Linked DNA regions of Homo sapiens: regions 2 and 3 are each linked to region 1. The links come from fine-mapping of genetic effects on gene expression. A gene starts in region 1. Each other region holds a variant in brackets. All regions are shown on one strand. Distances are from middle to middle. Region 1 holds the start of C1RL (complement C1r subcomponent like). Region 2 overlaps LPCAT3 (lysophosphatidylcholine acyltransferase 3). Region 3 holds the start of RBP5 (retinol binding protein 5).

Region 1 (4,147 bases):
TCTCAAATTCCTGGGCTCAAGTGCTTCTTTCGCCTCAGCCTCCCAAAGTGCTGGGACTACAGACATGAGCTACTGCGCCCAGCCTTAGAAAACTTTAATTAAAAAACAAAAAGTCTTACAACTATTATGTATCCATAATAATTAAAAATTTTAAAATTAAAAAATAAAGTTCAAAAATTTATGTCATTTTGATATAAATAAAATTTAAATCAAAAGATAATGTGCTCTTTTTATTTTTATTTATTATTTACTTATTTTTGAGATGGGGTCTTGCTATGTTGCTTAGGCTGGCCTTGAACCCTGGGCTCCAGCCCTCTGATCCTCCAGCCTCAGTCTCCTGACTATACTGCTGGGACTGCAAGCTTGCATCACTCCATCAAGTACTGTTTTTAAAATGTCCTTATTCTGAATAAGGCTTTGGCGTTAGAAGTTTTGTAATAGCTCTTCCAAGGTAAGTGTGAACGGTGACTTAATCTTTTGTTATTATTTGTGTCCAGCTTCCTCACCTGATAGAGCAGGCACTCAACAAATACATGATGACATATTTTTAACAACCAATATGTGCGTCCCTGCCCCTGGCTCCATAGATTTGCAAGATTTGTGTGTCCATTCATAAGCCTTCCAAACGCAGGGCCTGCTTGCTGCCCTCTTTGCTCTGTGGGGCCCAGATGGCAGCCCCGGAGGCGCTGGTGGGAGGCTGTGTCCTGGGGTCCACCACTGCTCCCCGGTAAGCCAAGCCCGACTGCCCCTACATGGAAAATTCATCCCTCCTCCAGATGGGGGATTCAGGGCACCGCCACTTCCCACAACCCCGGGAATCTCCCTGGCCACAGTCCTGGCGGGACCCCCCCCATCCCCAGCTCACTGTGACAGAGTCCCCTGCACAGTCCTGGGACGGCTCCAGGTCGAAGTCCTGGAAGACGAGCCTCACAGCAAAGCCCTCTGGAGCCTTGATGTCCGTGCTGCTCTCTTGGCCTTTGCCATACGGCTCTGGGTACCCGGGGGATGTCAGCTGCTGGGGTAGCTCTTGGGCCAAGAGGACGGAGCCCCGGGTTGGGCAAGCCTGGAGGACTCCCCAGAGAAGCAGCCACCACCTGTGAGTTGGGGGGAGGGCAAGGTGGGGCCGCGCAGCTATGGCCGGAAGCCTGTGGGTGTGGGAGGAGCGGGGGAGCCGCGCTAGGACTCAGAGGCCTCGCGAGGCAGGGCTAGAAGCTGTGGCCTCACCCTTGAGGCCCGGGCACTTCCCGTCTCCTCCCTTGCTCCCCTTCCTCACCCCAATCCCTACAGCCTCCCGCGCAGCCTGAGCTCTAGGATTGTGGGTTTTCCATCCTCCGAAGACATCACCTTTGCTCATCTCCCAGGAGAGTCTCGTCCAAAGGAGGGGGGTGCTTTCTGCTTCAGCAGATCCCACCCCACCCTGGGATCCGAGGGAGCAATGGTGGGGCGAGTGAGGGTCTGCCGTAAATATCCCCCGACCACCCTCTGGGAAGGTGCTAGAGGCCACAGGCAAATTTCAGTCTCCCCATGGAATATCTGCTGTGCTGCTGCTGCTGCTGCTGCTGGTGTGTGTATGTGGGGGAGGTGTGTGTGTGTGTGTGTGTGTGGGGGGGGGGGGGATGTGTGTGTGGGGGGGGTAGGGTGGGGGGAGGGAGGGTTTGCGGCCACCCACCCTTTCTCTTCCCCTCCCGTCCTCTTCCCTCCTCCTCTGCCGGGGCCACACTCACATTGCGCCTGGACAGCCTTTGGAGTGAGGGCTTCTCCAGAGATATTTCCCCCACACTCTGGGTCCAGGCATCTGGAACTGGACATCTGGGACCTGCGAGAGAACTGGCCCAGGATAGGGAACAAAAGGTGAAGGCCGGTGGGGGAGGAGGAAGTTCCTGGAAATGTTAAGCAACTCCACAGTTCCCCTTCTCCAATTCTCCGGGCTGAGCGCCACCTGCCGTCTGACTCAGGAACAGCGGGCCCGCCGCAGCTTAGGGGAGAAACGTCCAAAAACCTCGCTGGCCCTCAGAGGTCAGGGTGGCAGGGCACTGACTCGACCCTTTTGTACTATTTAACATTAATTTTTGCCATGTGTGTAGGATGGCTCCTTGTGAGTTATGGCTGCTGCCTTCAATCAGCCATGTCTCTTCCTCCCCGACCTTTCCGTTCACGACATACCCGGGGAGCCTCCCTCTTGTAGAATTGAAGTTTGTGATCCTTGAACTTGAGCTTTCTCTTCCTTTCCCTCCTCCCCAAGCAGGGGTGGGGGACATGCGCTTAGGTGGTCTTTTGAATCCTATTCACAACCTCTGGAGGCTGCTTGTCCAGCATGGTCAGGGCTGGGGTCGAGCCCAGGTGTCCCTCAGTCCCTAGTCCCAGTCATCACTCAAGCCGTCACTCAAGCTTCTTTAGGCAGATACTAGAGCCCCTGCCTGCTCTCACCGCTCCCCGAGGAAGGACACTCACCCACAGCTTGGTAGGAGGCCAGAAGGCTCTTATGGAGATGGGTGGTCCCATCCTCAGAGAAGGCAGGTGTGTGGAAGGCCTTACGTTGTATGCACACACAAATGCATGTGCGCGCGCACACACACCTCTCAGAGAAGAATCTATTGCTTCCCCCATTTTGCATATAGTAATATGGAGGCAAGTTACAGACCCAAACAGGGTGTGCTCTGCATCTTTGGTTTTTCTAGGCTAGAGAGATTTAGGAGAGCCACAGTCTATGGCTACAAGGAGATGATAAGAGAGTGATGGCCAGGACAGATGCAATGTCTCAGGTACAGTCTTGAGATCAAGCCTACCTGTCTGCCACACCCCAACCCCAAACACAACTGGGGATGATCTCCCATACCCATCTTCGAGGAGTGGGCCTCTCTGACTAGGACTTCTTTCCTCCCCTGAGACCACTGAAACCTGCTCTCTCATAGAACTCTTAGGGTCACCTGGAGCACCTTGGGAGCCAGAGATGCAGCCAAAGAGTGAACAATGGTACCAATCCCAAGACCCATGTGTTAAGAAGAAACCAGCCAAGACTCAGATCAGGATTGGGGAGTCCACCCCTCGTTTCCCTTCAGAGCATTATTTCCTTGTTTGCTAAGAGGGGCAGGAACTGGAAAACTCAGGCTAGCCCATCTGAGAAGACTTTCCTGGAGATGAGCTGGAGGAGGGAGGAGTAAGGCCTTGGAAGGAAACTCCAGGACAGGTAGGGTGACCGACTGTTCTGATTTGCGTGGGACCGACGGGTTTCCCAGGACATGAGGCTTTCCGTTTTAAAATGAGGGAAGTTCTGGGCAAGCCAGGACTGGTGGTCACCCTAAATGGATAGGGGTTAAAGTGCTGGAGTGAGGCTGGGTGAGAAAGAGGACAGGGAGCCAAGAGGGTGGGGAGGCAGTGATGCACCGGCAGCCCCAGGTGACTGGGCAGTCCAGGGTCTGGATGTGGTCCCTGTTTGGGGTAATCCAGCACTCTGAAGATGAGGGCCCACCTTGGTCTCACCTAGGTGGCGTGTGCGGCTGCAGCATGAGTTAGGGTCAAGGGCAAGGGGAGGAATGGCTGGTGATGTGAGACTGGAGAAGGAGCTGATGGCTCTGTGCATAGCTGGTCACTGCAGGCCCCTGTGGGCTAGGGCTGAGCTGTGCCCCGCTGTGTTTTCAGCACCACCTCCCCTACACTGGGACCTCGTCTCTAACTGGCAGAGTGGTCAATGAAAAAAAGGGCATGCCTTGGCACATCATGGTCAAACTGCTAAAAGCCAAAGACAAGAGAAAATCTTTTCTTTTTTTTAATCCCATCCTAAAGACTAGACAGAACAATATTTTCAATGTCACTCTTTTCTCATCAAAACCAATATAGACCAGAAGACAGTGGAATATCTCTAAAATGCTGAAGGAAAAAAAAAGTCAACTCAGAATTGTTTTTCTAGTGAAAGTATTCTTCCAGAATGAAGATGAAATAAAGCTATTTTCAGATAAAAGAAAACAGAGATTCTTGTCGCCAGCAGACCTCCACTATGAGAAGCGCTAAAGAAAGTTCTTTAGGACGGGCACGATAGCTCACGCCTATAATCCCAGCATTTTGGGAGGCCAAGGTGGGAGGATTGCTTGAGCTCGGAAGATGGAGGCTGCAGTGAGCCATGACGGTGCCACTGCACTCCAGCTTGGGT
Region 2 (4,000 bases), 99 kb before region 1:
TGATGCAACACAAAAAAGATGGAGCCATTAGTCCAATAACCTTATTAAAAAAATTCCTCCTCTGGGTGTGGTGGCTCACGCCTGTAATCCCAGCTACTCCGGAGGCTGAGGCAGGAGAATTGCTGGAACCTCGGAGGTGGAGGTTGCAGTGAGCTGAGATTGTACCTCTGCACTCCAGCCTGGGCAACAAAGTGAGACTCCATCTCAAAAAAAAAACAAAAAACACAACTCCTCTGTATCTAACCTTCTTATCAAAAGTGTGAAACAGATGGTGTATGTGATGATCATGATAATGAACATAATAACAATGTGAACATAATAACAATGTGAACATAATAACAACAACATCTCTTTATTCCTCAGATAACATCCAGAGCAGGAACTCTGGAGTCAGGCAGAACTGAATGTGACTTTAAGCAAGTTACTCAATTTTTGTAGGCCCAACTTTCCTATCTGTCAGGCCTACAAATGGGAAAAACTAAACCATAAGGAATCTAAGAGTTTTGTTTATTCCAAAGAGTACAGGATACAATGACCTTTCTTTTTTTTTCTGTCACCCAGGCTGGAGTGCCATGGTGCAATCTCGGCTCACTACAACCTCTGCCTCCTGGGTTCCAGCGATTATCCTGTCTCAGCTTCCCAAGTAGCTGGGACTACAGGCATGTGCCACCATGCCCAGCTAATTTTTATCTTTTTAATAGAAATGGGTTTCACCATGTTGGCCAGGCTAGTCTCCAACTCCTGACCTCAGGTGATCTGCCTGCCTCGGCCTCCCAAAGTGCTGGGATTACAGGCGTGAGCCACCGCGCCTGGCCAATGACATTCCAAAAAGGTACTATCAGGACATCAAGTACTACAAAATAGGCACCGGAAGAAATATGCTAAATTAGTAATCCTCAAACTCTAGAGTAATAAGTATAACCTGGCTTGCTAGAACAGATTACTGGGCACTATCCTCAGAGTTTCTCAATCAGTAGTTTTGGAGTAGACCAAAGAATCTGCATTTCTAACAGGCTCCCATAAGATACAGATGCTGTTGGTCACAAGACCATACTTTGTGTCTCCTTGGAAAGGGAGAAAATAAATATTTATTGACAGGGAAGGGAAGAACAATTATTTAAGATGATCTTGGGTCAAGCATGGTTAAGTGTTTACATAGTTTATCTTATTTAGTCCTTACAACATCCCAATGAGCAACAGTTCTCAAACTTTTCCAGGCCAAAGGAGAATGAACACATCACAAAAGAGTATGCCTAAGCAGTCTTCTAGAAATAGAAAATTTCTTTGATGACTGTATTACTTTAAAAATTCATATAAATTTTGTATTCTGTTTCAAAATACTGCTGCTAGTTATGAATGAAATATAAATCTAAAAATATTTATCAGATAAATTGCTTAACTCTTCATTGCAATTCTTTAGTAAAATTGGCCTGTGGGAATATAAAGAAATGGGTGGTTGAACTCTGGTAATGAGCTTATGGTGAAACAGCTAGTACATATTTATTTGATCCAGCATTTGAACCTAGGCCAGAAGATCTCTAAAGACAATGCACATGTTACTACCTTACTCTGTCATTGACCTCCACCTACATAAAAGGCCTATCATGTTTTTCTCTACTGCTCTTTTACGATCTTCTATTGTTCTGGTTAAAGAGGACTACTTGCTGTTCCTCAGATTTTTCTCAAAATTTTTTTTTCTTTTTCCTTAGATTCAGGGACAGACAGGGTCTTACTCTTCCTGATCTCCAGATTACTCTTTGTAGCTGGAAAGCTCCTCCGCTTTCATCTCTACTTTACTAGAATCTTACCATCCCCTTTAAGGCCCAGCTAAAATGTCACTTTCTTTCAGAAGACCAAATACCATTATTGATTGATTGATTGACTGACTGAGACAAGGCCTCACTCCTGTTGCCCAGGCTGGTGCAGTGATGTGATCATGGCTCACTGCAGCCTTGACTTCTGGGGCTCTGGTGCATCCTCTCACTTCAGTCCCCTGAGTAGCTGGGACTACAGACACATGCTACCATGCCCAGCTAATGCAAATATCATTTTTAAAAGGCGACTGAACTGGACGCCTCATATGAGCTCCCATGGCTGCCCAGACATGCTTTCATGTCAGTGATTATATAATTTTTTTTGTAAATTAGCTTATGCAAATAATCTTGTGGACCCTAACTTATACATGCTTCTGCAAAGAAACATGTTTAACGATAAAGTTATAC[T/G]GGAATTCAAAACATGATGTTTTATGGAATGTAAGACATTGGGGTATAGATAAAAAGTGGTTGGAAAAAATATATATATTTATTTTTAGAGATGAGGTCTCCTTCTGTCATCTAGGTTGGAATGCAGTGGCATCATCATAGTTCACTGCAGTCTCAAATTCCTGGGCTCAAATGATCCTCCCACCTTGGTCTCCTGAATAGCTGGGACTACAGGTGCATGCCATCATGCCTGGCTAATTAAAAACAAAATTTATTTATTTATTTTTGAGACAGAATCTTGCTCTTTTGCCCATGCTGGAGTGTAGAGGTATGATCTTGGCTCAATGCAGCCTCAACGTCCTGAGTTGAGCGGAGGACCCCGGGCTCCAGTGATCCTTCCACCTCAGCCTCCCAAGCAGCAGGGACTACAGACATATGCCACCCAGCCCAGTTAATTTTGTTCACTTTTTGTAGAGATGAGGTATCACTATGTTGCCCAGGCTGGTCTTGAACTCCCGGACTCAAGTGATCCTCTTGCTTTGGCCTCCCAAAGTGCTGGGGTTACAGGCGTAAGCCACCGTGCCTGACCTGGAAAATTGTATTTAAAAGAAATTCTTGGCCAGGGGCAATGGCTTATGCCTGTAATCTCAGCACTTTGGGAGGCTGAGGCTGGTGGATTGCTTGAGCTCAGGAGTTTGAGACCACCCTGGGCAACACGGTAAAACCCTGTTTCTACAAAAAATACAGAAAAAATTAGCCAGGCATGGTGGCTCACGCCTGTAGTTCCAGCTACTCAGGAGGCTGAGGCTAGAGAATTGCTTGATCTGGGAAGCAGACGTTGCAGTGAGCTGAGATTGCACCACTGCACTCCAGCCTGAATGACAGAGTAACACCATGTCTCAAAAAAAAAAAAAAAAAAAAAGAAAGAAAGAAAAAGAAATTCCCAAACGGGAAGGTTTAGATTATGATGAAATTTGTGGCTATGAACTAGAATAAAGTCTAAACATGTAGAAGTAATATACCTAGACTTTTAAAATTGGAAGGGTCCTTGAAAGTCATTTAGGACAGTCTCCCTATTTTATAGCAGTAGAATTTTTGGACCCTGCTTTGTATTATGGTCAGAAGTCTCTTTGTTTCATTAATGCTGCTTAATTTTCATCTAGCTTACCTTTGGTCTCTTTATATTGTGATTCCAGTGCTACCTGAAGAAAGCTTTCTGCACTGAATAATGGATTTTTTTCTGAAGGGCCAGACCTGACTTTGGTCCAAAGGGAACTAAACTGCAGGACCTCCTTTGATTTTAAAGGTCGCTAACTTTAGTGATGCTAATTCTGAACCTCTGAGGGATGAATTGTTACCCCCAGCTGCAATTTTTGATCAGTCTAACAGCCAAGCCACCATCATGGCCAAGACTAGGGAACACTCACAGTAAGCAGGGTGGCCATCTGCTCCATTTGGCCAGCTCTAGCTTTGGACACTGAGAGGTGGCTCATATACTGATTGCATCTTGGTTTAACCACTGAGAGTGAAAAGAGAAAAGGACACCAAGGGCATTTATCTTTTCCAGCCCCACATGCTCCTCCCAATCTCAGCGGTAAAGAGCAGGAACTCTGGAGTCAGGCAGAACTCAGTGTGACTTACTCAATCTTTGTAGGGCTGACTTTCCTATCTGTACCAGGAGATCTTAACAGCACTATAATTACCTCACGGGTAACTGGCAGGTTTAGGTGGGGAACTGCCTGTTGACCATTTAGGACAATGTCTGGTACACAGAAAATCCTTAATAAATGCCAGCTATT
Region 3 (4,147 bases), 21 kb after region 1:
CAGGGGAAATGTACCTGGCATTTTCGTCCGTCCACGCTCCTGAGGTCCTCCTCAAACTCCACTCCCACATCAAACTGCACAGTGTAGTTTCGGAAGGTGCTGAGCGTCCTCACCGTCATGTGGTTGCCCTGGTGTTCGATCTCCTTGTCCGGCTTCAGCAGCAGCGCGATCTTCCGCACAGCCAAGCTGATGTCTGTGGGGGCTGCCTGTTAGTAGGGGTGCTGCTAGCCAGCCAGGAGCTCCTCTGCCTGCAGCAGCCCCTCAGGGCTGTGAGTTTCCCTTCTTTGGGTCTGGGACTGTGGATTCACCCCCTCCTACCAATGCCTGGTTAGAAATGGATCCCAGGTCTGGTGCCAGCCGCCTGAGCCTTTCCACAGTGTCCAACCCCGGGCATTCCCTCTTCTCCATGGGACCAAGAAGCAGGAAGGAAGAGGGGAGAAAGGGAGTGACAGGGGTCTGGGAGGGCGAGGCCATTACTTAGGGCTTGCAGGTAGTCCTCCATGTTCTTCTGCGAGACAAAGCGGTAGTAGCCAGTGAGGTTGGGAGGCATTGTGTGGATGAAGGTTTCAGGAGAATGCAGGAGACAGGGTGAGGAAGGAGGGGGTGTTGTCTGGCAGGTGAGGCTGAGAGATTCCAGCCAGCTCCACACACAGAGACAGGATGTGTAATGGCCGGGTTACCAGGGCTTTTTATAAGGCTGGGGCCCTGTTGCAATAAGAGTCCCTACCAGACTTCTTCCCTCCCCGCATGGTGAGTTTGGGGGTGGTGTCTCCAGCCTGAAGGAGGGGCAGGGATTTGGCAAAGTTGCGCCTGACCTTGGCTTTTCCTGAGGAAGGAACCTGGAGCAGGATCCTTCCTGAGGAAGGAACCTGGAGCAGGATCTGGGGCTGTCAGTCATCCAAAACTCAGCCATCCAAAGGTCAGTGTTGGCCTCCACCTCATTTCTGGCAGGCTTGGGAACCGTCCCAGGGCCTGAGGGGCAGTCTTTCCTGGGAGACACCTGAGGCTGGTCTGGCTGTGTGAGGTGGAGATGAGTTCCAACAATATCCTGAGATCCTGGGACTGAGTGATGTTGGAAGATGTGAGGGGAGGGGGTGAGGATGGCCAGCTGCCACCATGAAGAGCACCCTGTAGGCCTGGCTCTCAGAGCTCCCTCAGGTAGTGTGCTCAACTGGGACCCCAAAGTGGCATTCCAGACTCTTGGTCCTAAAGAGCCATTAGGAGGGAGGTGGAGCCCGAGGGGTGCTGAGTTCAAAGTCCGGAACAGACAGCCTGAGAGGAGTTTGTTGGCTATTCTGGAGAATTTTATTCTTTTTGGCTTGGGACCCAGGGGGTTTTCTCTCCCTCTGAGTCATCGATGAGACCGTAACCCCCAGTCCCCAGCCCTAGGACAGCCCATGCTTTCCAGATGTATTTCTGTGAAGGTGGGGTGGAGGCGCCTAAATAATATTGTGCCCCGCCCCCAGCTGCCCAATTCTCTCTCGAACCTGCCATCGTCCCGGGCTTCAGAATCCACTGGGCTTGGTTCATCATGGTTTAAGGTGAAATTCGGGGCGAAGGAGGCAGGACAGGTAGGCAGGAGGAGGCGGCCGGTCCCGACAGGTGCGTGCGCGAGGGGTGCACGACGTCCTGCCCCTCCTTG[G/A]GTCCCAGAGCCTCGATACCGCCCTGCGGACCGCCCTGTGGCTTCCTCGCAGCCCTGGGCTACAAATGCCAGGATTTCTCAGGCTCAGACTGAGGGTTTTACTTCACCCTTCCCAGAGGGCACGCAGCACGGATCTGTGGATGGAAGGGGCTGTGGAAACAGGTTATGGCAGAGTTGGGGGGCGGGGTGACGCGGTGCCACCCCTCCTGGCCGCCCTCAGGTCCCGCTGACGTCTCTCTTCCCCACCCCCTGGCTTCTGGCTTCTTTCTCCCCACGTCCCTCTTCTTTCCCACCCCCTCCGTGGCTCTCCAGCTTCCTCCCCAGCCCCCGCAGTTCCTCGGCTCCCCCAAAATTGCAGCCAGGGGAAGGAGCCTTGAAACTCTCCAGCCCCGACGCCCCAGTCTCATTGGCTCCCTCCCCCGCTGCAGCACCTGGTCCCCCCCCCTCCCAGTCACCTGATTGGCCGGCGGCCCCATCAATCGTTGCCCGGCTGTGCTGACGTCATCCTGCAGTAGCGGGGTTGGGGTGGGAGTGAGAGAGTGAGGACGCTGGGCTGGGGGAAACGGGAAGCCGCTGCAAGTCCACCGCCTCAGCTACCCAGATTGGGATCTGCCCAGGCCCGCTTTATGGACTAGTGTGGGCGGCAGGCTCCTTTCCGTCCCTGCCCTGCTGTACCCCGCTCCTTGGAGACCCCCTGTATCCCTCCCGCAAGGTGGAATCCGCAGGCTGGAGGCTCCCAGGGGAGGCAAACGCCTGGCCCTGCCCTGCCCCACGCCGCACCATGACCCTCCTGCTGCTGCCCCTTCTGCTGGCCTCTCTGCTCGCGTCCTGCTCCTGTAACAAAGGTGAGTGAGGTGGGGGTGGGGGTACCGAAAGAGGGGCGTCGGGCAGCGCCGTGCGGGGTGGGGGTGGGAAGGAGGTGTCGAGGCTCCCTGGCACCTGACAGGTGTCTGGCCCTCTTCTGATCACCCTCCTTCCCATCCGTTCTCAGACCTGCTCCGTCTCCTCTCTTTCTCTTCCCCCAGCTACATCTTCCTTTCTGGTCCATCTCTACCCATGCGTTTCTCTTGCTGGTCATCTTGCTCCCATTTGGTCTCCATTCCCGTCCTGGGGTCTCTATTCTCCCCTTCCCCTAATTTCTACACGCTGGTGGCTACCTCGGGTCTGGGAAGGACTGCCCCCGAGCCGGTGATAGGCCTCTCCCCGCGGCTCTCCCTTTCACTGGCGCATGCTAAGGGTGTGTGGCAGATCCATCTGCTTCGCCTCCATCCCATCCTGGGGAGAAAGTATTTGCTGCAGTTCAGCAATTCGGAGCACGTATGTTTTTTGCGTGTGCCTCTGCATTCAGACCCTTTTGCCTGCATCAGCTGGGCTGTGGGTTACCAGAGCTGCCCTCTCTGGCAGACAGCGGATACATTCAGCTGGGCGGGGCTGTCGGACAGACGGAGAGGGAGGACGGGAGGGAGGGCTTGCGGGCAGAGGGCTCAGGTAGGTGGAAACGGATGGAGACTGGCAGGAAAGGGCAGAAGTGGGTGTGTGGGGGGCGCTAAATGAGTATGAGAGGGAAAGCTGAGAAGGAGAAGACCGGAGATGAGGCGTGGGAGGGGGTAAGGAGGGGATGGAAAAGGGTAAAGGTGGAGGCAGAAAAAAGAGGGAGGAATGAGGAAAATCAGGAAAAGAGTGAGTCAAGGAGGAGCCCGGGAGCCTAGGAGTGAAAGGGAGCAAACGCAGAGACCGCAGGGGGCCAGGAGGAGAGGAGACAGAGGCTCAGAGACCTGGGAAGACAAGCAGGGTGGGAGGGGGAGCTGTGCAGAGGGCGCCCAGCCCTGCCCTTCCACCGCTCTCTCTTCCTTGCCTGCATCTCTGACCTCAGCCTCGCCTCCTAGCCTCCTGCCACTTCCTGTACCGCCTCCTGTGCACCATCTTGTGGCTTTCTCCTCAGCATTCAGGAAGGGGTTATGGTGGTCATCAGTAAGAAAGCCTTCCCATGCCAAAGGCTTGCTGGTGTGTGGTTGGAGGAAAGAATGGAAATCAGGGTTTCTTGCTCACCGTGAGATACTGGGGATGAGGTTCCTTTTGGTGACTCAGTTTCCCTCTGCCTCATGATTGTGCTTTGGGAGCCTGGGTGTTGGCATGATGATGGGATTAGAGCAAGCGTGGAGGCTGGGGTGGGGGGTGATGTGGAAGGGGAGGAAATATGCTTCCCCACAGCCCCTCACCAGGCTGAATCTGGTAGAAGATGGGGAGATTTGGAGTCTGATGAGTCCCGCATCCATTCTGAATTGGCTGGTGGTTGAAGGGAAGAGGGATGGGGTAGATAAGAACTGGGATTGAGTTCTGTATAAAAAGTGGGTTTCAGGGAATGTGGTTTGATGGTCTTGTGGAGGACATAGAAATGTGTCGGTTTCGAATGTGTTCTCTTGGGTGTGGGGGTGGGAAGCAGGGACGGGATTTGTCATGTTTCTAGGCCAGCCCGATAATCCCTTAGGATGACGGCTCTGCTGG

What was found.
Region 2: its variant is fine-mapped to the expression of C1RL in whole blood (TOPMed, PIP above 0.99).
Region 3: its variant is fine-mapped to the expression of C1RL in whole blood (INTERVAL, PIP above 0.99).

What each region holds. Positions count from the first base shown.
Region 1 is chr12:7,107,386-7,111,532 of GRCh38, forward strand. C1RL (complement C1r subcomponent like) reads right to left here and starts at 1,829. Exons shown (of 6, transcript NM_016546.4): 1 at 1,725-1,829; 2 at 866-1,094. The coding sequence starts at 1,795. C1RL-AS1 (C1RL antisense RNA 1) reads left to right here and starts at 923. Exons shown (of 12, transcript NR_026947.1): 1 at 923-1,096; 2 at 1,288-1,562; 3 at 2,679-2,762; 4 at 2,913-3,187; 5 at 3,640-4,147. RefSeq lists enhancers at 849-2,048, 881-1,050, 1,691-1,770.
Region 2 is chr12:7,008,546-7,012,545 of GRCh38, forward strand. All of the region lies in intron 1 of LPCAT3 (lysophosphatidylcholine acyltransferase 3), which reads right to left. Among named protein-coding and RNA genes, the nearest start is that of LPCAT3, 7.9 kb to the right of the region's middle. The variant T/G (reference allele first, on the strand shown) is at 2,223.
Region 3 is chr12:7,128,226-7,132,372 of GRCh38, forward strand. RBP5 (retinol binding protein 5) reads right to left here and starts at 664. Exons shown (of 4, transcript NM_031491.4): 1 at 478-664; 2 at 15-193. The coding sequence starts at 550. It overlaps CLSTN3 (calsyntenin 3), which reads left to right and starts at 2,146. Exons shown (of 18, transcript NM_014718.4): 1 at 2,146-2,487. The coding sequence starts at 2,424. RefSeq lists silencers at 1,903-2,002, 3,093-3,162 and an enhancer at 2,444-2,945. The variant G/A (reference allele first, on the strand shown) is at 1,643.